Linked DNA regions of Homo sapiens: all the other regions are linked to region 3. The links come from fine-mapping of genetic effects on plasma protein levels. A gene starts in region 3. Each other region holds a variant in brackets. All regions are shown on one strand. Distances are between the middles of the regions.

The links. PIP is the chance, under the fine-mapping model, that this variant and not a neighbour inherited with it causes the effect. Protein levels are from antibody-based Olink assays in UK Biobank. Linkage for the fine-mapping came from a reference panel and not from the study's own genotypes, which makes the PIPs less certain.
Region 1: its variant is fine-mapped to the plasma level of the IGFBPL1 protein (UK Biobank, PIP above 0.99).
Region 2: its variant is fine-mapped to the plasma level of the IGFBPL1 protein (UK Biobank, PIP above 0.99).

Annotation. Positions count from the first base shown.
Region 1 is chr9:38,377,463-38,385,641 of GRCh38, reverse strand. It overlaps LOC107987065 (a long non-coding RNA gene), which reads right to left. Exons shown (of 3, transcript XR_001746670.2): 3 at 4,437-4,682. Among named protein-coding and RNA genes, the nearest start is that of ALDH1B1, 11 kb to the left of the region's middle. RefSeq lists an enhancer at 3,891-4,839. The variant C/A (reference allele first, on the strand shown) is at 4,331.
Region 2 is chr9:38,405,381-38,413,559 of GRCh38, reverse strand. It overlaps IGFBPL1 (insulin like growth factor binding protein like 1), which reads left to right. Exons shown (of 5, transcript NM_001007563.3): 3 at 207-323; 4 at 2,011-2,169; 5 at 4,343-7,032. The coding sequence ends at 2,160. Among named protein-coding and RNA genes, the nearest start is that of IGFBPL1, 15 kb to the left of the region's middle. The variant C/T (reference allele first, on the strand shown) is at 4,476.
Region 3 is chr9:38,419,883-38,428,061 of GRCh38, reverse strand. IGFBPL1 (insulin like growth factor binding protein like 1) reads left to right here and starts at 3,608. Exons shown (of 5, transcript NM_001007563.3): 1 at 3,608-4,097. The coding sequence starts at 3,638. It overlaps LOC105376041 (a long non-coding RNA gene), which reads right to left and starts at 3,451. Exons shown (of 8, transcript XR_007061487.1): 1 at 3,312-3,451; 2 at 1,299-1,412. RefSeq lists an enhancer at 1-2,563.

The DNA of each region.
Region 1 (8,179 bases), 42 kb after region 3:
GACCTGATTCTTGAAAGCTGAATCAAGGGGAGAAACAGCATTTCTGGAAGACAGAGCTGCATGTGCCAAAGGTCAGAAATGAGAGGGAGCCCTGTGGCTTTGGGTGCAGTAAGAACCTCCTCCTGGCTGGTGCCTGGGCTGTGATGGGATAAGTGGGGGCCATTGAGAGCCAAGTCTGGAGCCATAGATCATGCCAAGATCATGAAAGGCCTGAAGTGCCTTGCTAAGGAGTTTGGATGTATCCTGAGGAGGCACAGAAGTGACACAGGATGCTTCTCAGTCACTTTGCCAGCTGGGACCTCTGGTCAGCGATGTCCCCCTTGCCTGGGCCTCTCTGGGTCCCAGGCCTGCCGTTAGAGACACCCTACCCACTTGTCCCACCTGTGTTATAGCTTGTACCTGTGTTCAGCAGTTCTTGAGCTCTTGTCTCACATCCAAGAAGAATGAGGACATGCTGACAGTAGAAGGGTGAGGATGGGCAGAGAAGAATTTTATTGAACAATAGAACAGCTGTCAGCAGAGAGGGGATGTGGGAATTGGTCCCCCAGCCCTGCAGCTGGGTGGTTTCTCTCCTCAGTGTGGCTGGGTCTGGGGCTTTTTATGGACTCAGAATGGGGAATGCGTGTTAATTGGTTTGTGAGCATGCAAAAAAGGTTAAAGCGAAGACACCACCCAAAGGAGGGCATGAGAGTGTAGAAAACCAATTAGAAAAGGGTAGGCTTGTGTAAAATAGGTGAAGGGTGTGATCAGTCAGAGGAAGGTGTGCCAAATGGGAAGACAGGTTCTCAGTCTGGTCCAAGGATCTAACTTGTAGCTTGGCTTTTAGGCTTTGAACTGTCTTTGGCTTGGAGGTGGGATTTCACTGGGGACCACTCCTATCTGCCTAGGCATTTGGCTGCCTCCTGTCAGTATCAGAGGGATTTAAGGCATAAGGGTGACTTGGTTAGATGAGAACCACTTGATTTCCTCAGATCCTATGGCAGTGAGTGAGGAGTAAGTTCAGCTCTGAGTAACAGAGACTCGTATAAAAATGGCTTACATAAGATGGGAGTTGATTTCTCTAAAAAAGTAAAGGAAGCCCAGAGGGAAGCAGGTGAGGGAGGTGGCTCAATGATGCTCAAGGAGGTGGACCCCTTCCAATTCCCACTGGTCACCCCTAGCAGGGGAAACTGTCTTCATGATCCCAAATGGCAGCCACCACATCTACATTCTAGGGATCAGAAGGCGGGTGGGAATGAAGAAGACAAAAGGGCAAAGTGTGCATGCCTCTGGCTTTAGAGGAAGGCTCCCCAAAGCTAACCCCCAAACAACTCCATTTATATCCCATTGGCCAGAACTTACCTACATGGTACAACTATCTGCAAGGCATGCTGGGAAATAGAGTCTTTAGGGTGGTCAGAATATTGGGGCTTTCATTTCTGTGGCTTGGTGGGAAGAGAGACACTGGGGGCTAACTAGGAGGTTCTGTCACAGACCCCTCCAACTCTGCTATGAGGAAAAGATTACTGGCTCTGGTTGACAGATAAGGACACTGAGGTTCAGAAAGAGAAAATTACTCACTGGTAAGTGGTGCATCTGCAATTGCAAAGCTTGGCTTGGAATTCCACACTCATAAAAGCACTAGGCAAGCTAGTGGAGGTGACTGACTTTGCACTGTCTCCCCTCTCCAAATCTGATAATCTGATTCTAAAGGTCCCCCCATAGGTGTGCCTCAGTGAGTCGTCAAGGAAGAGCAACCCCTGCCTCCCCAATTCAAGCAATTCTCCTGCCTCAGCCTCCTGAGTAGCTGGGACTACAGGCGCATGCCACCACGCCCGGCTAATTTTTGTATTTTTAGTAGAGACGGGGTTTCACCATGTTGACCAGGCTGGTCTCAAATTCCTGACCTCAAGTGATTCACCCCGCTCAGCCTCCCAAAGTGCTGGAATTACAGGCATGAGCCACTGCACCTGGCCAAGTTTCTCATATGCTTCTGATATATAACCATATTTGGGAAGCACTGGCCTAAGTGGTTTCTGAGGAGTCTTTGACTCCGTCATGGTTATTTCCAGAAAGTGACTTCGCCTGCAAATGTGTTGTGTCTAGATTCTATCCAGCATGACTACCTTGACACTTTCTAAGCTGTGACTGGCATCAGAACTCACCAAAGTGGTCCTGTTGCAAGGTATTTACCCCCTCAAAAATAAAAAGTAATAAAAAGAAAACCTTCCACAGTGCTTGACATTTATGGTTTGGAGAGAAGAACCAACGTGCAGTAGCTGAAGGTAAAATGCACAAATTATTTTTGCAGAGGGTTGACTATTTTCCAGGAATGTGATGGATTGGAATGCCACACTCTTAAAAGCACTAGGCAAGCTAGTGGAGGTGACTGACTTTGCACTGTCTCCCCTCTCCAAATCTGATTCTAAAGGTCCCACCATAGGTGTACCTCAGTGAGTCATCAAGGAAGAGCAGCCCTTTCTTTTTTATTTTTGAGACAGAGTGTTGCTCTGTCACCCAGGCTGGAGTGAAGTGGCACCATCTCGGTTCACTGTGGCCTCCGCCTCCTGGGTTCAAGTGTTCTCGTGCCTCAGCCTCCCAAGTAGCTGGGATTACACATGCATGCCACCATGCCCAGCTAATTTTTGTATTTTTAGTAGAGACGGGGTTTCGCCATGTTGGCCAGGCTGGTTTCAAACTCCTGACCTCAAATGATCTGCCCGCCTCAGCCTCCCAAAGTGCGTGAGCCACTGCACCCTGCCTGAGCAGCTTTTTCCTGAGAGGATTCCAGGATGGTTGTTCCCACCCCTGGCCTTATAGAATCAGGAACAGATCAGGAGAAAGGGGGTCCTTAGAATTTCTGGTCCAACATCACCATTGTATAGATGAGGAGACTAAGGTCCAGAGAAGGGAAAGACTTCTGTAGATCCCACAGGGAGTGAGTGGGAAGGTCTGGATAGGGTCCAAAGTGAGAGCCCACATATAGTCCAGTCTTAGTTATGGCTCACCTGGTGCTACGTGTGGGGTTTGGACAACCTTTTCAGCTAGACTGAAGCCTCATTAAGGCCTCTGCTACGGGTTGGTGAAAGAAATTGCCCCAGTGTTGGAATAACAAAGATGCTTCCCGTTGTCTATCTGTTCACACGGATTATGGGCCATGGAATACTCCTTCCCTGGAACAGAGAGACAACGTGTGTGAGGACGAGGATAGACCCACAAAGGAGAGAGGGCACAAGGTGCTGTGGGCAAAGCCCCCAGCTGGGGACTGGACCCCAGGCTGTCTGACTCACCATGAGCCCTCTGGGCCCAATTATCCTCACGGTGAAGGGATTGCACTAGATTACAGACTAAGCCAGGTGCAAGGGAGCTGCTTACCGGGCCCCCACCCTCTGGTGGCCCCTGAGGAAGCTCCAAGGGGCCCGGTGGCTCCAGGCTTTCCTAGATCTGCCCCTGGGCTGATGCCTGGACATGTTCATGAGGAACGGGAAGGAAAGTGATCAGGAGCAGGAGCCAGAGAGTGTGGCCTCCACCCCGTCACGAAGGGTCCTTCACAGGAGGATGGTTGGGCTGGGTCTGTCCTCCCAGGCCCAACTTCTTGGGCCAGAAATACCTGTTAGAAATGAAGGTAGAAGCAGACAGATCAGGGCTCACCGGCTCAGAAATGGCTCCACTCCCAGCTGCACTCCTGTTCAGTGAATCCAGGCAGGCTGGATTCTGCTGTTAAAGGATGGGAGAATCTCCTCAAGAAGCCTCTCTCTAGGCTAAGAAGGGCTGGAGCCTGTGCAGGGGCCCCAGCCCAGGCCCAGGGGTGAGATTTGATATACTGAGGAATGGAGCATGGGCACAAAGCCTGGCTGTAATTCTGTGCTCACCCTAACCCTAACCCTTGTGATCTGGTTGGCCATGGTGAGTCATGCGGAAGTTCAGGGGGTCCCAGGCCAAGGGCCGTGAGGACAGAGTGGAGGTGGCACCTAGGGGCTCAGAGAGGGGCTGCTTACAAACTGGTAGGTGAGCATTTTGTATTAAAGTACCCGTATGGCTGTACTAGGGCTTTTCCATGGAAAACGAGTCTTATATTATCATTTATGACTGAGCCAGAGGGGTTCATCCCTGTGATGGGAAGAATATGAATTAACAGCCTTGTGACTCTGTACAGAAGAAGAGCCTGAACCCCAAGGAGGGTCAGGGTCCGTCCCAGGCCAGGCAGGGAGACTGGCAGGGCAGGGCAGGGCGGGGTGGAGTAGAACCCCAGGCTGTGCATCTGTGGCATTTGAGGTGCAATTACTGCCTGCTGGGGACAGATCAATGCCTCTAATAGACATGTTTATTTAGGGAATGAAAGGCTCTTTCA[C/A]TCTTACCGAGGAGGAGTCACGAGGCAGCTGAACAACCCTCCAGCTGACCAAGGCTGGCATCTCAGATCACATTCCACCTGTCCCATGATGGGAGGAAGAAACCGGTGCACTGAACGGGGCTGTTTATTCACCAAACAATGTTTGCAAAGCTGCTGAATCATTATCTTCTTCTTATCACTGTTCTCTCCTTCACAGAGCATGGGGCTCCCTAGTGTGCAGGCTTCAGGCCTTGCAAAACCTGGATCCTCCCTGCTTGTTTTCCTGATTGCTGCTCTTTGGAAGCCCCTGAGTTCCATTCCCAAAGCTCTCCTGAGCAACAAAGCCATTTCTTCCTCCGGCCAAAGACCACCCCTGGAGAGCACAGGAGAGGAAAAGCAATTATTTTCGAAAACTCAAAGGCCTCCTCTTCAGGAAGCCCTGGAATCCATAGTAAACAAAGTTCCCCATCTTATCTGTGAGAAACCTGAAGGAGGATTTTAAAATTCTGGTGTGCCTGTCAGAGCAGAATACGTGTAAATAGGCAATTTCCTGCAACCTTAAGGCACGCTGGGAGGCAGACACTTACCAAGGTGACATTGGCCCAGGCGCCTGTTCTGTGCTTTGAATGTGGCACTAGAATCCCTAAACCAAGCCCGAGGGATGCAGAGTTCTGATTAGATCCTGCCTTGTGTCTCCCTAAGGTGTGAAATGCTTGGTTTTAGTGCACCTGAAAAGGTCACTGAGTAAGTGATCTACTGAATCTTTCTATTCATAAGAGGGGATATAGCAGGAGGCACTGAAAGATGATCCAGGTACAGGTGGGGATACTGAGACCCAAGAGGGAAAAGGACCACTGCACATCCACAGGGAGTCAGTCGTGAGTCACAGTAATGAATTGGTGGTTTACTATGTCCTACTCACTTTACAGGGATTACCTTACTTGAGGCTCATCACACCCACGTGGGGTAACCTAACACTGATTTCTATTTTAGAGGAGGAAACAGATTTAGAGAGATAGGGGTGGTGCTTGGTGCTGGCTACATATTAGAATCATCTGGGGCCTTATATTAATAAGTACTGATTCTGGTCTGATTCTTGAAGGTCCATTAAAAACAAGATTAAAATAAAAAGTACTGGTGCCTAAGCCCCTCTCCTGAGGCCAACTTGAATTCTCAGGGTAGGCCTTAGCCATGGGTATAATTTGAGGTGCTCCAGGTGATTCTAATATGTAGCCAGCGTTGAGACGATGGGGTTGCAGAATTTGCTCAAGGTTACATGGCCAGTGAGTGGTGGATTCTACCCCGGGAGGTCTGACTCCACTAGGCCTCACCTGAGCATGCTGGAAATCAGTGCAACTCATTACCCTGCAAAAAGTATCTGCTCCCCTTAACATCATCTTCTGTGAGCCTGAAACCTCTAGTACATGCAGCTCTGGGACCACAGGTGTGCTTTCTTTCCTGCTCTAAACTCTCCTGATGGTACCAAATGGATATGATGCAGGGTATTCCTTTGCTATTGTTGCTGTAACAATTGCTACAAATTTCCAGTTCAAAACACACACGTCCAAGGAAAGGTGCAGTGGCTCACACCTGCAATCCCAGCACTTTGGGAGGTGGAGGCAGGTGGATCACTTGGGGCCAGAAGTTTGAGACCAGCCAGGCCAACATGGGGAAACCTCATCTCTACTAAAAATACAAAAATTAGCCAGGCGTGGTGGTGCACGCCTGTAGTCCCAGCTACTCAGGAGGCTGAGTCAGGAGAATTGCCTGAACCCGGGAGGCAGAGGTTGCAGTGAGCCAAGATCGAGCCACTGCACTCCAGCCTAGGCAACAGAGTGATACTCTTGACTCAAAAACAAAAACCAAAAACCAACCCCTCCCCCCCACCCCCCACACACAACCAATCTCTTGCAGTTCTAGAAGTCAGAAGTGTGAAATCAGTTTCACTGGGCCAAATTCAAGGCATCAGCAGGGCCCTGCTCCTTTCTGAGGCTCCAGGAGAGAAGACATTTCCTTGCCTTTCTCAATTTCTAAAGCTGTTTTTCTTGGATTCCTTATTTCATAGCTCCTTCCCCTCTCGTCTTGCTAGTGTTACATTGTCACCTCCTTCTTCTGTGTCAAATTTCCCCCTCCCTTTTCTCCCCACCCCCCTTCCTTCTCTCTCTCCCATCTCTTCTTCTACTTTGTGAGGACACAGCAAGAAAGGGAGAAGGCAGTCATCTGAAAACGAGGAAGACAGCCCTCACCAGAAACTGACACTGTTGGACCTGAATGTCTCCATTCAGGTTCCACATAACCATCTGTGATCTAACTGAAGGCCATTGGGCCAAAAACACGTTGGTTGATATCAGTTTGGTCTAAGTAAAATTTTTTTTTAAAGAATGTTGTAGCCAGCCTCCAAATGGTTCCCAGTGAACCCTGCCTCCTGGTATTCCCAGCTGCCTGCATTGTGGGGTTCCCTCCCACACTGTATCAGGGATGGTCTGTGTGACCAACAGCATATGGTAGATGTAGCGGTGGTGTGCCCGGAATTGGTGGGTTCTTTGCTCACTGACTTCAAGAATGAAGCCGTGGACCCTCACGGTGAGTGTTAGTTTTTAAAAGTGGCGTGTCCGGAGTTTGTTCCTTCTGACATTCGGATGTGTTCGGAGTTTCTTCCTTTTGGTGGGTTCGTGGTCTCGCTGGATCAAGAGTGAAGCTGCAGACCTTCGCAGTGAGTGTTACAGCTTTTAAGGCAGCGCCTCTGGAGTTGTTCATTCCTCCTGCTGGGTTCGTGGTCTCACTGGCTTCAGGAGTGAAGCTACAGACTTTTGCGGTGAGTGTTACAGCTCATAAAGGCAGTGTGGACCCAGAGTGAGTAACAGCAAGACGTATTGCAAAAAGCAAAAGAACAAGGAACCCACACCATGGAAGAAGACCCGAGCCAGTTGCCACTGTGGGCCCGGGCAGCCTGGTTTTATTCTCTTATCTGGCCCCACCCACATCCTGCTGATTGGTCCATTTTACAGAGAGCCGATTGGTCCATTTTACAGAAAGCTGCTTGGTCCGTTTTGACAGGGTGCTGATTGGTGCCTTTACAATCTCTGAGCTAGACACAAAAGTTCTCCACCTCCCCACTAGATTAGCTAGATACAGAGTGTCCACACGAAGGTTCTCCAAGTCCCCACCAGAGTAGCTAGATACAGAGTGTCAATTGGTGCATTCACAAACCCTGAGCTAGACACAGGGTGCTGATTGGTGTGTTTACAAACCTTGAGCTAGATACAGAGTGCCGATTGGTGTATTTACAATCCCTTAGCTAGACATAAATGTTCTCCAAGTCCCCACCAGACTCAGGAGCCCAGTTGGCTTCACCCAGTGGATCCCACTCATACTGGTGCCGCAGGTGGAGCTGCCTGCCAGTCCCAGCCGTGCGCCCGCACTCCTCAGCCCTTGGGTGGTCGATGGGACTGGGCGCTGTGGAGCAGGGGGCGTTGCTCGTCAGGGAGGCTCCGGCTGCGCAGGAGCCCATGGAGGGGTGGAGGAGGCTCACGCATGGTGGGCTGCAGGTCCACAGCCCTGCCCCGAGGGGAGGCAGCTAAGGCCAGGCGAGAAGTCGAGCGCAGCTGCTGGCCCAGGTGCTAAGCCCCTCACTGCCCGGGGCTTGCGGGCCACGGGGCCTCCGAGTGCGGGGCCCGCCGAGCCCACGCCCACCCGGAACTCCCGCTGGCCCGCAAGCGCGCAGCACGCAGCCCCGGTTCTCACCCGCGCCTCTTCCTCCACACCTCCCTGCAAGCTGAGGGAGCCGGCTCTGGCCTTGGCCAGCCCAGAAGGGGGCTCCCACGGTGCAGCGGCGGGCTGAAGGGCTCCTCAAGGGCGGCCAGAGTGGGC
Region 2 (8,179 bases), 15 kb after region 3:
TGCTGTCTGGCAGAGCGTGCTGTCTATATGTACAAGTAGGTTTAAAAAATGACTGATGTCATTTGCATAGGCATGAGCAGTGCTAGGGTTTCCGTTTTTGAGTCAGTGGGAGGAGGAGGAAGGAGGAGGGCAAGGAAGCCTATGGGATGGTCTTTATCCAGAATTGCTTTTTCTAAGCCCCCTCCTGGCATTCCTGTCCCCTGTAGGTCACGAAGTCCCCTGAGGGCACCCAAGCACTGGAGGAGCTGCCTGGGGACCATGTCAATATAGCTGTCCAAGTGCGAGGGGGCCCTTCTGACCATGAGGCCACGGCCTGGATTTTGGTGAGTGTTTAGGATTATTGGATATTATTGACTGACCATTATAAACCATCCTTTATATTTCTACAACACATTACATGTTTCAAAGCTGTTCTTACCCATTTCTCACTGGCCCCTCCAGTAACTGTGAGGCAGGCAGGGCAGGTTTCAGATCTGCTGGGAACATACGTGTTCTGCTGCCAGGGGCAGAGTGATGGCCCCACAGTGATGTCCACCACGTCCTCACCCCCAGAACCGTACGATGTTACATGGCAAGGTGGTGGGAGGGAGGTTGTGGTTGCTAAACAGCTGAGATAAGGAGATTTAAGATAAGGAGATTAGCCTGGATTATCCGGGTGGGCCAATTTAAAGGTGGGTCTTTAAGTGTGGAAGAGGGAAACAGAAGAGTCAGAGGCAGACTGAAGTGATTCGATGTGAGGAGGACTTGACCCACCATTTCTGGCTTTGATGATGTTGGAAAGGGCCACAGCCAAGGAGTGCCAGCATCCACTAGGAACTGGAGAAGGCAAGAAAATGAGTCTCCTGAGAGCCTTCAGAAAGAATGCAGCCCTGCCGGCACCTTGATCTTAGCCCCCTTTGGGCCTCTGACCTCCAAAACTGTAGAAAAGAAATGTGTTTGTTTTAAGGCACTCAGCTTGTGGCGATTTGTTACAGCAGCCCAAGGAACTAGTACACCTGCCTAAGGTCACCCGCTGGTAAAGGTAGAAGGTGGCACATTCGAGTCCTCCTCCAGAGCTCTTTCCTGCCACTCGCAGCACTTTTACCAAGATGAAGAATGCCACATGTTTGAAAGAGTGATGGAATGAGGAGATAGGGGTCCATGTTGGGTCGTCACTGTACCCTTCTGAGCCTCCATTTCCACTGTTGTTGAAAGAGGGCTTCAAACTGAAAGACCTCTGAGGGCCTTTGTGGCCCTGGCAGTCTGTGATTTACCTGTGAGTCTCCTGTAAAAAGAAGACCATAATGCTCACCCTTCCCCCACGACTGGCATGAGTTTAAAACGAGCTGATGTGCGTACACCAGCGCGTGGTCGGTAGGATGATTTGTAATTGATGGAAGCGGTTGGTTGTAACGAGAAAGCAAAAAAGACGCGAGCTGGTTATGGACCTGGCTGTGAACATCCTTGGGGTGCTCCCTAAGGACAACCTCCTCATTCCACCCACAGCTCTGGGAGGCTTGGTGACTCTTCTCCACCCAGCTGAGAGATTGGGAATGCAATTGGCTGTGCGGTTTTTTCAAATCAAGCACATTCCTCTATTTTCTTAGGAGAAAAGACAGGGAAAAGAGGTTATCTCTGGTGGTATTTTGTAGAGGCTGCCCCTATAGGGAATACTTTCTGGATCATTCTTTGGTCAGTAGATTTTTGTTCTTCTTTTAACTTGAGGTGTTTTCCAAATAACCTATACCTTGCACCTTTAATACAAAAGACCAGGTAGCTCACAGTAAAAGGCAGGTGTGCGGAGGAATCATTCAGATGAGAGCCACAATAGGGAGCGTGCCTTTCAAGAGGGTCCCTGGGAAGGAAATTTACCTGCGTGCTCCTTGGCAGCCAATGCAAGGAGAGAAATAGAGCAAGTTTTACCTTATTCTGAAAAGGAGGAAGTGTGCAGACTTATCATTAAGAACTAACTAAGGAAGTCATTTTGCTGTTCCTTATATAACTGTATAAACTTGCCTGTTGTATTTCTAGATCAACCCCCTGCGAAAGGAGGATGAGGGTGTGTACCAGTGCCATGCAGCCAACATGGTGGGAGAGGCTGAGTCCCACAGCACAGTGACGGTTCTAGATCTGAGTAAATACAGGAGCTTCCACTTCCCAGCTCCCGATGACCGCATGTGATGGAGAAATGTACATGTTCTAAGTCATTTTCAGTATTTTACACCCATGTTATGAGATATTTGAGGTGGCTTATAAGACCTGTAAAAAAAAGAAGAAAAATACGTAAATGGAGGAAACCAGGGAAAGAGCAAAAGAAGAGTAGGGACATACTTAGATGAGCAGTAGAATCCCTGGTATATTCTGCACACATCTCCCTCTGAGCTTCTTAGCATGCAAAGACAAGAGCTGTGAACATGATGTGTGTCCATGAGATGAAAAGACCAGTTGTGTTTTGGGGCTGGAGGGAATATTTCCTCTGTATTCTTCTAGAAAGAGCACTGAGAGAGGTAGCAGACAGTGTCATTGTGACAGCGTCCATGTGAAAATGTTCCCACAAAGAAGATGCCTGAGCTTCCTTTGTGTGTTCCTGGAGCTCTTCCTTGTTCAGGACACCTGAGCTTCCTTCCTGGGGCTCAGGCCTTGCCTTCCTGTCCTCAGCACTGTGTGCTGCTTTGCAACACATCTCCTTGTGGGTAGGGGCAGAGAGAATCTCTGCATCCCCTCTGGTCAAGGCCTCCTAGTCTGTAGTCACACAGGTGACAGCTGGGGTTGCATCTGTTCCTTGCCTACAGGTGAACTGGGAATTCGGGAAAGGGATCACTTTATAAGCCAGCTTTTGCTCATAAAAATCCCAAAATCTTGCTGGTTCACAGCCACAGACGTTGATCACTTGCTCATGTTCCATGTTATAGCTGTGAGCTGGCTGTGGCCCTGCCCCATGTGTCCCCTCATTCAGGACCCAGCTGGAGGAACAGCTCCAGTGTGGAACATGTCCGTTCTGTGGCCAGGCTGCACACACCATTGCATTTAAAGTTTCTGCTCGGATGTGATGTGTGCCCCGCCCATTTACAGACCAATCATTTTTTTTTTTTTTTTTTGAGACAGAGTCTCACTCTGTCACCCAGGCTGGAGTGCAGTGGTGCGATCTCGGCTCACTGCAAGCTCTGCCTCCTGGGTTCACGCCACTCTCCTGCCTCAGCCTCCCGAGTAGCTGGGACTACAGGCACCCGCCACCACACCTGGCTAATTTTTTTGTATTTTTAGTAGAGACGGGGTTTCACCGTGTTAGCCAGGATGGTCTTGATCTCCCGACTTCATGATCCGCCCGCCTTGGCATCCCAAAGTACTGGGATTACAGGCGTGAGCCACCGTGCCTGGCCTGCACGATCCTCTTACAGGAATGGGGGAGCAGTGGTGAACAGGCACCATTACCAAGGCTGATCAACAGGTGCTTAATAGAACAGGAAAAATTAGAAACAAGTCTGATAGGGTTTCTCAAAAGCAGGGGGATTTTGCCATGGTTTTAGTTATATTATTCTTTCAGCCACTACTGTTGCACACCTTCTGTGTGCAAGGCCTTACTTCTGGTCTGTAGGGGATCACAGAAAAACAAAAAGTGGACATAATTATAATACAAGGAGTGCGATGTAAGGGAATGGGAGGAGATATTAAGGCATGAAAAGCAGCTTAGAACTGGGGAAAATGAAGGAAGAATCATCGAGGAGGTGGCATGAGGATTGAAGGATGGGTGTACGTGAGTAGTTAGAGGCCCTAGAAATGGGGAGAAAAATATGAAAATGTAAAACTGTGAAATAGGAATTCAACAAAGAGTTAGGAGATTGGGTCTTAAAATTGTCTTCCTGATGATATGTGACTTGTTTTATATAGATATGTTTCCAGTTTTAAATATATATATCTATAATTTTCAAATACACGTATATTTTGAGGCAGAAATGATTCTGGGTTGTGAATACATCAAAAGGATACCATGAAAAATTGTGGAATTTTAAGAGCATCACTGCTGCCTAGGTCTTGAGTTCCTTCTGTGACACACAGTATTGCCAGCTCTGGCTTACATACCTCCAGGGATACAGAGCTCACTACCACTGAGAGCCATCTGTGGATTTTCCAATGGTTGAAAAGATCTTATTAAGCTGGAGTCTGCTGCTTTGAAACGTCCACCTTTTGGTCTTAAAAGTACTTCTTGGGACTCCACAGGGCCCTTCACTCTCCACTGGCACCATTTCCTGCTGGGGAGAGATTCGAAGTGAAGGATCATTTCCCCCACCTTCCATGTAACACATAGTTGATTGTAACGGAGCAGGCTTACGTTCTCTAATTCTTTCTCTCCTTTTCTTCCTAGGGTCTTAGAAACATTGATCATGGGATGATGGAAAAGTCAAATAACGGATCTTTGTGCTTCATGAAGAGTTGGAAAACCTGTGTGTGTAGATGACCCCTTTTGTGTGTTTTTAAAAATTAGATGCAAACTAGAT[C/T]TGTATGCAGATGTAGTTTTTAGCAGGGCAAACAGTGAGAAACGGATTTGCATGTGGCTTTTTTATACTTTTGAAATGAATTGTTCCATGAGAAGTCTTTTTGTAATTATTCTCTTCCAGGGAGATCACAGAACGGCATGTTTGCAATTTCGAAAGGGCTCGTGTCAGCTGTGACTCTTTACCTCATTTGTCTATGACCTATTAGTGGTGCTCTGTGACTTAGTGTGTGTTGTAGAAGGAGGGATGAGGGTCCCAGCTGTCCTCTGCCTGACTGTAACTTGCTGTGTGACCTGAACAGATCCCTTCCCCTCTCTGGGCCCTGGTCCCTTCATCTGTGAGTATGGCATTTTAACTGGATGTTATCAATGTCCCTTTTAGCCCTGCCATCCTAGATTAAGATGGCCTTTTGGGAAAATAACAGGAAGTGTGGTCTTAGTGTTCTTTCTAAAATGGTATTCCCTCAGAAACAAATTCCATTGCTTTACCCCAACGTGTGGACAGCTGGCTGTAGCTCTTCTATTCCTAACTTTTTCCCTTTGAAGGAGATTTAGTTTTAGGTGGGATGCTTTACCAGACTCAGGAGCGCCTTGGCTGGGTCTTTGGAGACCAGAGCATCCATTTGTTAGCCTAGCATTCTCTTTTTTAAAATTTTATTTTGAGACAGGGTCTCGCTCTATCACCCAGGCTGGAGTGCAGTGGCGTGATCATGGCTCACTGCAACCTCCACTTTCTGGGCTCGAGTGATCGTTCCACCTCAGCCTCCTGAGTAGCTGGGACCACAGGCATGCCCCACCACACCCAGCTATTTTTTTTTTTTTTTTTTTTTTTTTTGTAGAGACAGGGTCTCCCTATGTTGCCGCCCAGGCTGGTCTCAAATTCCTATGCTCAAATGATCCTCCTGCCTTGGCCTCCCAAAGTGCTGGGATTATAGGCATCAGCCACTGTGCTTGGCCTAGCCTAGCATTCTCTAAACAGGTGGTTAGAAGCGGTGGATACCAGGCTTCTGACGATCAAATTGTAAAAAAAGGGGTCAGGTGTTATCTCCAGACTGTGGAATTAGATTGTAGTAGAATATATTTTACCTACAAACATTTTGACCTCACCCAAGAGTAAGGCTCTCTTTTTTTTCTTTTTTAATGAAAAAAGAAAGGAGAATATTTGCTATCTTATCTTAAAAAAATAGATCCTTAGGTGATTACAATTTTAAAATAAGAATTGAGAGCCCTTACTATGCACAGTCCTTTAAGTTCATAAAGCTTGATCCCAACTCTGGGAGATGGGGCAGGACAGGTGTTAATGTCCCTGCCTTTAGCAGATGAAGAAACCAGGCTCTGAGAGGAGAAGCTACTTGCCCAAGGCCTGAAGGCCTCTGAAAGAGGAGCAGAGCTCAGGGCACCTGGCCCTCCTTGGTCCCCTCTCTACTCCACGGTGCTGCTACTCAGGGTCATCTCAAAACTATGTAAAGGCAGATGTTGCCAATCCACAGGCTTCAGGGACTCTTATCAAGACTCATCCCAACTTTTAAGGCACACTTTCACACCGCTCACATTGTGCATTACATTTTGGAGTCCTTGTTGGAAGTGAACTTTCCGCCTGTAAGCCTGCCATTCCATGTCTAATATATTGGGATGGCATCACCTTCTGTACTATGCAGCAGAAGGAGACTGGCCTGGGATTCTGGAAACATGAGATCCATTTGCATATTAATCCCCGGCTCGCTGTGTGACCCTGAGCAAGTCTCCTTCACTTTCTGTGCCTCAGTGTCCTTATTTGAGTAAAAAGGGAATAAAACTAGATGAGTGGTTTTCAAACTTTAAAACACTGGAAGCTCTCTTTGAAAACAAAAGATGAGAATTGAAATGGATGGCACTGGAAGCTGTTCTTGTCTACTGGGGTTTGGAGCTGCCAGGGGACCTGCTCACATCCACTCCTCACTCAGCCCCTCCCGCCCCTCCCTTCTCCACGCACTGTGACTGACTTCCATGTGTGAAGGCCTGCAGTTAATTCTCCTGTGTCTTGAATGGTTGGGAGATGAGTTGGTCAGACCCTTAGTGAAATGATGTGGGAAGGAACAGGAATGCTGTGGCTCTGAAGAAGGTAGTAGAACATCCCACACCTGCTAATAAGCACATTTTGCAAACTCAGTTGACTCACCTCAGATTTGCCTAGTGAAAACTGAAGGGCTGGATGTAGACCCAGAGAGCAGGGTGGACAGAGCCCATGCTGGAAGTACTGAGCATCAGGACTGTATGGGGCTGGCTTTAGCATCATCATTCTGTGCAAAGACAAATAATTAATGTCACACTGTCTGAAATTTTCACCAAAACCAAAAAGGCGCATTAACATGATTGTTCCAACCTCATGGTTTTTCAAGTGTGAGCGCCCAGAGACCTCTTCAGAGGCTAAGAGAGCATGCGCTGCCACAGCTGTTAGCATTTGGAGACGTAATTACAATGCCCCCACTCCCCGCACCAAACCTGGGTTTTTCTACCGTTTTTGTAGATGTCATGATGTCACGACCCCTGCACCCTGAAAAAAATAAATGTTTTTAAGGACAGTCTTTGTGGTGTCTTTGTTGTAGGAATGCTGTATAGGTGGGTGCAGGTCCCACTGGTATTCCTTTATCATCCCTCATGCCTCCTGTCCTTCCTTCTGCATGCCCACTTCAGCTACTTAGTCTAGATCCTCCTTACCTCCCACGCCTGGTTGCGATCGCAGCCCCACCGTTCACCTTGCCCGAAATTTTTAACCAGCCCTAATCATCTTACACTACTGCCCTTGACTATGTGTGTCCTGCCGTGTACGCATTCTAGTACTTAATTCACTTGCTGAGATAGTGCTCTGTCCCCTCCCACACACACAGTAGCATTCTCCAGGTGCCAGACAGGTACAAGATGCCGAAAGTCATATGTTTGGAATCATCTGGATTCCTCCCATATGAAAGTAGGTAGAATCAGGTCCTGAACTCAGACTCCAGTGGAGACATGGGTGGGATGAGGTCACCATCCCTGGCAGCATATGGTGTCTGCTTTGTGGTTAGAGCAGAGGGAGATCAAGGAAGACTTCCCAGAAGAGGAGGCAGGCATTTGAACTGGCAGGAGTGGGTGTGGGGGATTCCAGGCTAAGGAAACAGCATGCAAAAAGGAGTCGGGGTAGAAAAATGCAGTGTAGTTTGTGAACAGGGAGGAATGGCCAGTTGCTGCTGCTCAGAGCTATGGTGGTGGGCGGGTAGTAGTTTGGGGCAACACCCCTCAATGCAGACAGAGGAGGTTGAACTTGTTGCCGTAAGCAGTGGACAGACTGAATCTCTGTCTCTGTTGTCAGCTGGGCTTGAGGAAGACAATTCCACAGCCCATGTTCAATCCCAAATGTATCTGCTTTCCCCCTTAAACACAAATAAGGCTAGTTTTTAGTTAAGGTGGATTTTTTTTTCTTTCAGGTTTTATGGTGAAATTAATTCCAACATCTTTAAAAACACTGTCCTGCCCTCTCCTCCAGGGACGGATGGTGCAGGAGAAATGAATAAGAACGGCAGATCCAGCGACAGTAAAAGTCTCCGCTAATGAATTTCCTCCTTCCCAGCCTTTACGAGGGCTTCTTGAACATTACATCAGACAATGATTATTCCATGATATTTTAATTAATTAAGGGAAAGCCAGGTGCTCTGGTGTCTCAGTTTAATGAATTCAGAACGTGGAAGCCCA
Region 3 (8,179 bases):
TACCATTCTTTTTCGTCTGCTCAGTATCTGAATTCCCATCTTTGCAGAGTTCTACATCTTGCTACATCCCCTTGCATGCAATATTGAAGTGAAATCTGTCTCCCTAAAAATCCCATCTGTCATTTATGGAACTTCCCTCTAGAAATTCACCTTGCCTTCTGCTCTGTAATCGCCCACCAGAGGTCTGGAGAAAGGGCTTTCACCTTCCTTTAGCTTGGAGAAGACTATCTATGATTGCCCTGACTATTAAAGCTTGAGGTTCAAATCCATGGCCTATTTATGGAGTGGCCTTTGCTCAACTGAGCTTCTATTCTCTTCCTCTGTGCTGGAAGCTCCCCAAGGACAGAGAATATCTGCCATTTATCTCTACGTTCAAGGGAGGAATTAATGGATGGGACATTCATACCCACTTCAGCAGCTGCCGGGTGGGCACACATCTGCTCTGAATGGGGGATTGGCTAGTCTTCCCTGTGTTGTGTTTGTTTTCAGGCTGGAGGCTGAAGAGGAAGAAAATCACACCCATTCTTGTTGCCTAATTACTTACCCAGGTGCATGGGATCTCTCCACCTGCCAGACAACAGAGGCACCTCAACCCCCCTTCCCGACTGGGAGAATTTGTCCCTACTTTCTCCTATCATCTTAGGGGGCCCACAGGTGTGGCCCACAGTGTTAACTGGTACTCTGGGAACCAGAGAGATGAAAGAGCACAAATGCCTCTGCTGGGCTATGGGCTTGCAGGCAATTTTAAAAGGAAATAGACATGACTGATCACCTTCAAAGCTTGGGAATGTTTTCTCCACCCAGATACAGGGGCTTTGATGCCACAGGCTCAGTGTTGGAAAATGAGTCTTCTGATTTAATTCTCAAAGAGTCGTTATGCATACATAGTACTCTCCCTACCATTTAAAAGGAATGTAGATCATATGTAAATGCGCCTCTGTGAGATTGTGTATCCTAACCTGCATTAAGCACACATTAATTTCATTATGACACCGTTCACTTACTCCTCCTTTAATGTCTGCATAAAAAGCAGGCAAATCATTTCTGTACACATTTATTTCTCAATCATGACCATGTTTTGTCCAGTCCAGGTCTCAGGGTCGGGCACTGTACTACAGGAATGGTGGCTCAGTTTGAGGTAATCAAACGTCAACTCCCCTGACCCCTACTTCTGACCCCCTCCATGCTCCTTGCCAAGACTCATTCTTAAACTCCTTCTTTGACAAGGACCTCACTATCTCTGGAGCAGCCTGATCTCTCTTTGGACAACTATGAACCATTAGAAAGTCTGAACTTACCAGCAAAGTTGTCCCTGAAAAGCAGCATGGAGTTCGCTTATCTCTTTTGTTTGCAAATCCTGCTTTGTTCATTTAACATTATAAGTGTTTCCTTCTCATAGTGAGACCCCATCTCTGAAAAAAAAAAATTGTTTAAATTAGCCAGGCGTGGTGGTGCTCACCTATAGTCCTAGATACTCAGGAGGCTGAGTGGGGGAGGACGGCTTGAGGCTCAGGAGTTTGAGGCTGCAGTGAGCTATGATCATGACATTGCACTCCAACCTGGGCAGCAGAATGAGGTACCATCTCTTTTTTTTTTTTTTTTTAAAAAAAGGGTTTCCTTCACATCATTAAAAACAATCTTAAATTTTTGCATGTTTACACATTCACATATTTACAAATATGCCATTACATTAGATGTGCACTTTTTAACCGCTATTTTACTAAACAATGTATTATAAACATGTTTTCATTTCTATTAACCCATATTTTCTTTCTAATTGTTAATGCCTGCATAATCCTCTATTGTTAGATGTACCATAATTTATTTAACGATTGCCTCTCGGTGGGCATTTAGGTCGTTAACTTTTTTTATTTTTATTTTATTTATTTATTTATTTTTTGCTATAGTAACCAACTCCAGGATGAAATCTTCACACATAGTGATCATTTTTTTAGGAGAGATTCCTGGAAGAGCACAGAGGGGTCAAGCGGTGAGAGCACTTTAAAAGGCCACTCCTGGTAAAGACAGCAGCCTCCAGGTTGAAAGTCACTGTTGATAGGTTCTGAGAGCTGCGCTGAGTGCATTACCAACATTGTTATATTTATTCCTTACCACCACCCCTTCATGGTGCCTAACCGCCCCTGCTCTGTGTGGCTGATTGTAAGGTAAGGCCTGGCGTGGACCAGGCAGATGGCCCTCCTCTGACCACCACATAAAGTGGCCTCAGAAGAGGCTCCTTTCTGGGGATAAGAAGACTGCAAACTGGGAAGGAACTGGGCTTGAAAAGCAAAATGAACCCCACCCAAGAACGGTGTAGCTGGTCTTCCCAGGCTGCAAGAGGCTTTCTCCATCTCCAGGAGTTCAGCAAAGAAAAAACAATAGAGCACAAGACACATGAGGGGTGGCCAGTAAAGGCAGGAAAAGTCTCCTATAAAACCTGCTCAGCGAGTCCCTCCCTCCATCCAGTGCATTTACCCAGCAACACATCAAATCCCAGCAGCCAAGACTCTCTTAGGTTTCTCGTCTGGGTGCCCTGCCAGAACTCAGGCAGGATGGTGTGCACAGAGCCTGGCCCAGAGAAGGCGCAACGGCGGCATGAATAACTGACTACAAGAAACTGCATCTTTCCAACATGCATTCCCCAGTAAGCCACAGGTACACTGACCCTTGTGCACCAAGACTTCATCAAAGCATTATTCGTATTAACCAAAGGATGGAAAATAAGTGGTTAAATAACTGCAACTAAACCCTGTGGAAAGGCCACTCTGTATGAACTCCAAAATATATCACCATATCTCATCACAACAAAGTCACTGTGGACGGAGATGTACCATGACTTTATGCAGCATTAAGAAACACACTCACAGAGCCAATGAACTATGCTCCCATTGATTGTATAAGAAACCCAGTTTCACAGATGACAAGAGGTGGGGAAACTGTGAAACACTGTAAGTGCAAAAACCAAGTGCAGACTAATGTGTATGGCACGCTACTCTGTGTGTGTGAGAGAGAAACAGAGTGTGTGTGTTTTAAAGGAAGGGGCTTTTTTAGGCACATGTACTTTTATAGGCATAGAGAAAATTTCTGAAAAGATATACAAAAACCCGATAGCAAGAGTGGCCTCTGGAAGCCGAGTTGGAGGATGGGGATACAAGGTGGTAGGGTAACCCTCTTTTCATCCTTAGATGTATATGTAAAATCTACATTTTAAACCATATATTCTCTTTATAAAATAAAACTTTGAAAACTACTGAATGCAAAATAAAATTAAATAAAATAGCGCATCCTTCTGGGAGGATTTACGGGCATACTATCTGGAGCCAGCCTTGGATCCGGAGACCGTACGGTTATCCAATCCTGACTCTGCCATAGCGACCTCGGGCAAGTTGTCGCCCCGACTGGGTCTCGGTTCCCTCAAGAGTCCAATCGGAGGTCGGAGAGCTGCTCTCGGGGCGACCCTCCAGCTCGGAGACCCGGGCCGCGGGCACCGCGCGGGTCCCGGGCTGGAGCAGCGGTCTGCGGGCGCCCCGCGGTGCAGGCCCGGCCAATCAGCGGCCGCGGGGCGGGAGCGGTGACTGCTCGGCGGGCGCGGAGCGGAGCGCGAAGCAGAGGCGCCGCCGCTGTCCCGGAGCAAGCCATGCCGCGCTTGTCTCTGCTCTTGCCGCTGCTGCTTCTGCTGCTGCTGCCGCTGCTGCCGCCGCTGTCCCCGAGCCTTGGGATCCGCGACGTGGGCGGCCGGCGCCCCAAGTGTGGTCCGTGCCGGCCAGAGGGCTGCCCGGCGCCTGCGCCCTGCCCGGCGCCCGGGATCTCGGCGCTCGACGAGTGCGGCTGCTGCGCCCGCTGCCTGGGAGCCGAGGGCGCGAGCTGCGGGGGCCGCGCCGGCGGGCGCTGTGGCCCCGGCCTGGTATGCGCGAGCCAGGCCGCTGGGGCAGCGCCCGAGGGCACCGGGCTCTGCGTGTGCGCGCAGCGCGGCACCGTCTGCGGCTCCGACGGTCGCTCGTACCCCAGCGTCTGCGCGCTGCGCCTGCGCGCTCGGCACACGCCCCGCGCGCACCCCGGTCACCTGCACAAGGCGCGCGACGGCCCTTGCGAGTTCGGTGAGTCAGGGTCGGGGATTGGGTGGGTAGAGAAGGAGGGATTCCAACCCTCTGGGGTGTGGAGCGAAGGATCCCCCTGCCCAGTGGTGGACGGCGCTGCCTGGCACTCAGTTTCCCCTTAGGGAGCAGTATTTCATATCTCTCCTCGTGCTCAGAGAGACTGGGGCGAGAATCCTTGGAGACGCCACTCACTGTGCTAGTCGAATTTTTGGTGAGCCTGCTACCCCTTTTGGTACTTAAGTACCTGCTGATGCAGTCACTTATTTGTAGGCATGGTATGTTTGCCCAGCAGGAGACTGGGAGTTAAGGAGGGGGATCCGAGTTCCCAGGTATCCAGCGCTAGGTGGATTGTTTGAATGGGGAGGAAGGGAAGTTGAGGTTGGGGGAGGAAGGGAAGTAGAGGATAGGGGAGGAAGGGAAGTTGAGGATGCAGGAGGAGGATGAGTTCCAGACTGGGGAATCAGTAGTCACCAGGCCACAGCACCAGAGCACCAGGGCCCCCGGTGTGGGAAGGGGCTGAGCTGGGATGCTGAGGGAGCTCCATCCAGGAGAAGTAAGACCTTTGGAGACGTAAGGTCTGAAAAGATTGTGGTGCTATTAGGGGCAGACTCAGGTTTCGTGCTTCTAAAACATATATAATTTGGAGAGTCCTGCCTTAAGTAAAGGAATAGAACTGCTAGGGACTTAGAAACTTATTATGAAATGCTAGGGACTTAGAAACTTAAGCTTCATTAACATCACAGTAAAATAATCTCTGAGTGCTATAGTTGCCCACCCTCTTTATGTACCTTTTGAAAACCAAACAAAAAGAAACCAAAACGTTAGCACTGCTTTACCGGCTTCCTAAGCATGAGTGTATTCCACCCACTAGGTTTTGAAGTGCCGCTGTGTACTTTGCCTGGAGTGGGCAGTGCTGAGTTTAGGGTGAGTGAGAAGGTGGCCAGTGAGTCCCAAGGAGCCTGGGTTTCGGCCTGGAGTTCAGGCTTCTGGGAAATAATTCTGGCCTGAGCCCAGAGACCAAGTCCAGACTTTAGTGCCTAAGTCAGTGTAATGACTTAGCTTCAAGAAAGAAGCCTGGGGTGGGGTGAGACCTTTCCAAGCCTTAAGAAGTATCTAGTAGTCTTTCCTCTCAAGTAGTTCAGGTAGATGTACCCAAGTCCAGGAGACGCAATGGGTTGTTGGAGATGGGGCAGGAAGCCTCCAGTCCTGGGAAATGTAAAACCAGTGTGTGGCCAGTTGAGCACAGGAAAGTCACCATTGGCTGTTCCTAGCTGAAGCTCCCCATGGAGGACAGAGCTGGCTGGGGGTGCATCTGTGCTGCCGCTGGCTCCCTGAGTGGCCCTGGACGGGTCCCTTCCCCTCTCTGGCCATATCAGCCCCAGTGGAGTCATTGTTGAGGTCCCTTTCACTCGGAACAGTTGGTTTCCGCCCTGTGGCACTTAAACAGTCCTGTCTCTTTCCTTTTGCTAGTTCCTATCACTCGTTTTTATAACTGCTTTCCTCAGCCGTTAATTCACAGGCAATTCTCTTTGTCTCCAGACAGGTAACACTTTTAACTCCACATGCAGGAGACAGAAGAAATGCTGACCAGGTCCTCAGACTATAAATGCTGCTGATGATCTCAGATAATTTCTCCCCAGAGTGGCATTCTCTTCCTAAGAGAAAGGCACCTTAAAGACATTCAGACCAAATCTGCTGTTATACAGAGAAAGAGACTGAGACACAGCAAGGTCAGAGCCCTTGTCCAGGGTGACCAGTAAAGGATGACCAGCTCCCTGGTCCCAACACCCTGTCCAGTGCTCTTTTGGCACAGGACTTAATAGTATTAAGTCAGGCAGATGGTGGTTACCATGGTTACCAGAGTGAGGCCAGATGGCAGATGGAAACTCCATACCCCTAATTCACTGAAAATTACCAAATGACAAGTAAATGTGACAGCCCCTTCACTCTGATCTATGGGATCTGAGGCCCACCCCAGGCACAGACCCAGGGAATAAAGATATTCGTGGGGCCACATGGAAGCAACTCAGAACTGGTTTTCATGATCTCATTACTGACAGGCGTCAGGCCTCCCCGGGGTTCAGCCCTTCTTCCGCACCAGCCTTTGTGTCATCCACCACAGAACCGGGCACTGTTTGCCTGTCACTCTCTGTCCTGAAGTGCTAGTGTGGCCTCTGCCCTTGTGTCCAGATAAAGCATGAAGGTTTGGACAGGGGATGTTTCCTAGCCCAGGCAGCAGCTCATTCTGTGCTGCCCTAAAGCCATCTTTTATTCACAAGACACAGCGGGAGCGTTTTTTAACAATGCCTCTGGGGATCCCGGTTGAAGGAAAACAGACTGTGAGTCAGAGCAGGGCTGTTCTGCTTCAATATTCATGATAAAATCACCCCTCCTGACTCCTTGGGTACCCAAGCACCTAGATTTCATGGAATGAGGCCTCGGGAAGTATTTATTATGTTGTTCACAGTGTGTGAAGGGCCCTTATACATGCCTCTGAGGAGCCTGGGGAAGCAGTTTTCAGGCTTAAATTCTGCCCTTTCCTCCTATGCCCTGAAATGCCCCAAACTGCCACATAATGAGAGTGATCCTTTGATCCGCACACATGTATGGAAGACTCACATATGAATAATTCTTACTGTTGGAAATTGCTTTTGCATCCTTTTTTTTTTTTTTTTTTTTTGAGACAGGGTCTCACTGTATCTCCCAGGTGGAATACAATGGCTTGATCACAGCCCACTGTGATCCTGGGCTCAAGGAATCCTCCTGCCTCAGCCTCCCAAGTAGCTGGGACTATAGGCACATACCATCATGCCCAGCTGATTTTTAGAATTTTTTGTAGAGACAGGATCTTACTGTGTTTCCCAGGCTGTTCTTGAACTCCTGGCCTCAAGCACTCCTCCCACCTCAGCCTCCCAAAGTGCTGAAATTACAGACATGAGATACCATCCCTGGGCTGCACCCATCTTTTTACATGATTTTTACAAGTGTCCTGGGGAGGTCTCCTTCCCATTTGATAGAAGGGAAAGCTGAGGCACATGGAAGGAAATTCCCTGGAGCCACCTGGCTGGTCCCAGCTGTGAAAGGGCTCCAGTGTAGGTTTGCCTGGCTGTTTTGTTTTGTTTTGTTTTGAGACAGAGTCTCACTCTGTCACCCAGGCTGGAGTGCAGTGGTGTGATCTTGGCTCACTGCAAGCTCCACCTCCTGGGTTCACGCCATTCTCCTGCCTCAGCCTCCAGAGTAGCTGGGACTACAGGCGCCCACCACCACGCCTGGCTAATTTTGTTTTTTGTACTTTTAGTAGAGACGGGGTTTCACTGTGTTAGTCAGGATGGTCTTGATCTCCTACCTCATGATCTGCCCGCCTCGGCCTCCCAAAGTGCTGGGATTACAGGCGTGCGCCACCATGCCTGGCCTGCCTCGCTATTTTCAGATGGGCGCTGCACAGCTAGCCGCTAGCAACCTGATCAGTAAGGTGCTGTGCACCCGCCAGCCTTGAATCTTGGGGGTTTCTCAATCTGGGTCCACCTTCCTGTTTTTCCCAAGGTTTGTCACTTGTCCCTCTATTTAGCACTGGGCTATAGCTCCTGAGAGAAGCCTTGAAGGATGGGGAGAGAATCCCAATGCTAGCAAGGGGGAGGCACAGCATGAACTGAGGCTCAGAGGTGGGAGCCCTTTGGTGGGTGTGCAAGTGGGCCCATAGGGCCGAGGCCTGGTAGGATGGTTGGGAAAGGAGATGACACCCCAGAGTAGTTTGGGGTAGGCCACTGCAAGCCTTGGGTGCAAGGCCGAAGGGGGAAGCTTCATTCTGCACTTTGGGAGGCTGAGGTGGAAGGATTGCTTGAGGCCAGGAGTTCAAGGATAGCCTGGGCAACGCAGCAAGATCCCATCTCTACAAAAAATTCTAAAAACTAGCTGGACATGATGGCATGTGCCTGTAGTCCCAGCTACTTGGGAGGCTGAGGCAGGAGGATTTCTTGAGCCCAGGAGTTCGAGGCTACAGTGAGCTATGATCATGCCACTGTACTCCGCCTAGGAGACAGAGTGAGACCCTGTCTAAAAAGAAGAAGAAGAAGGAGGAGGAG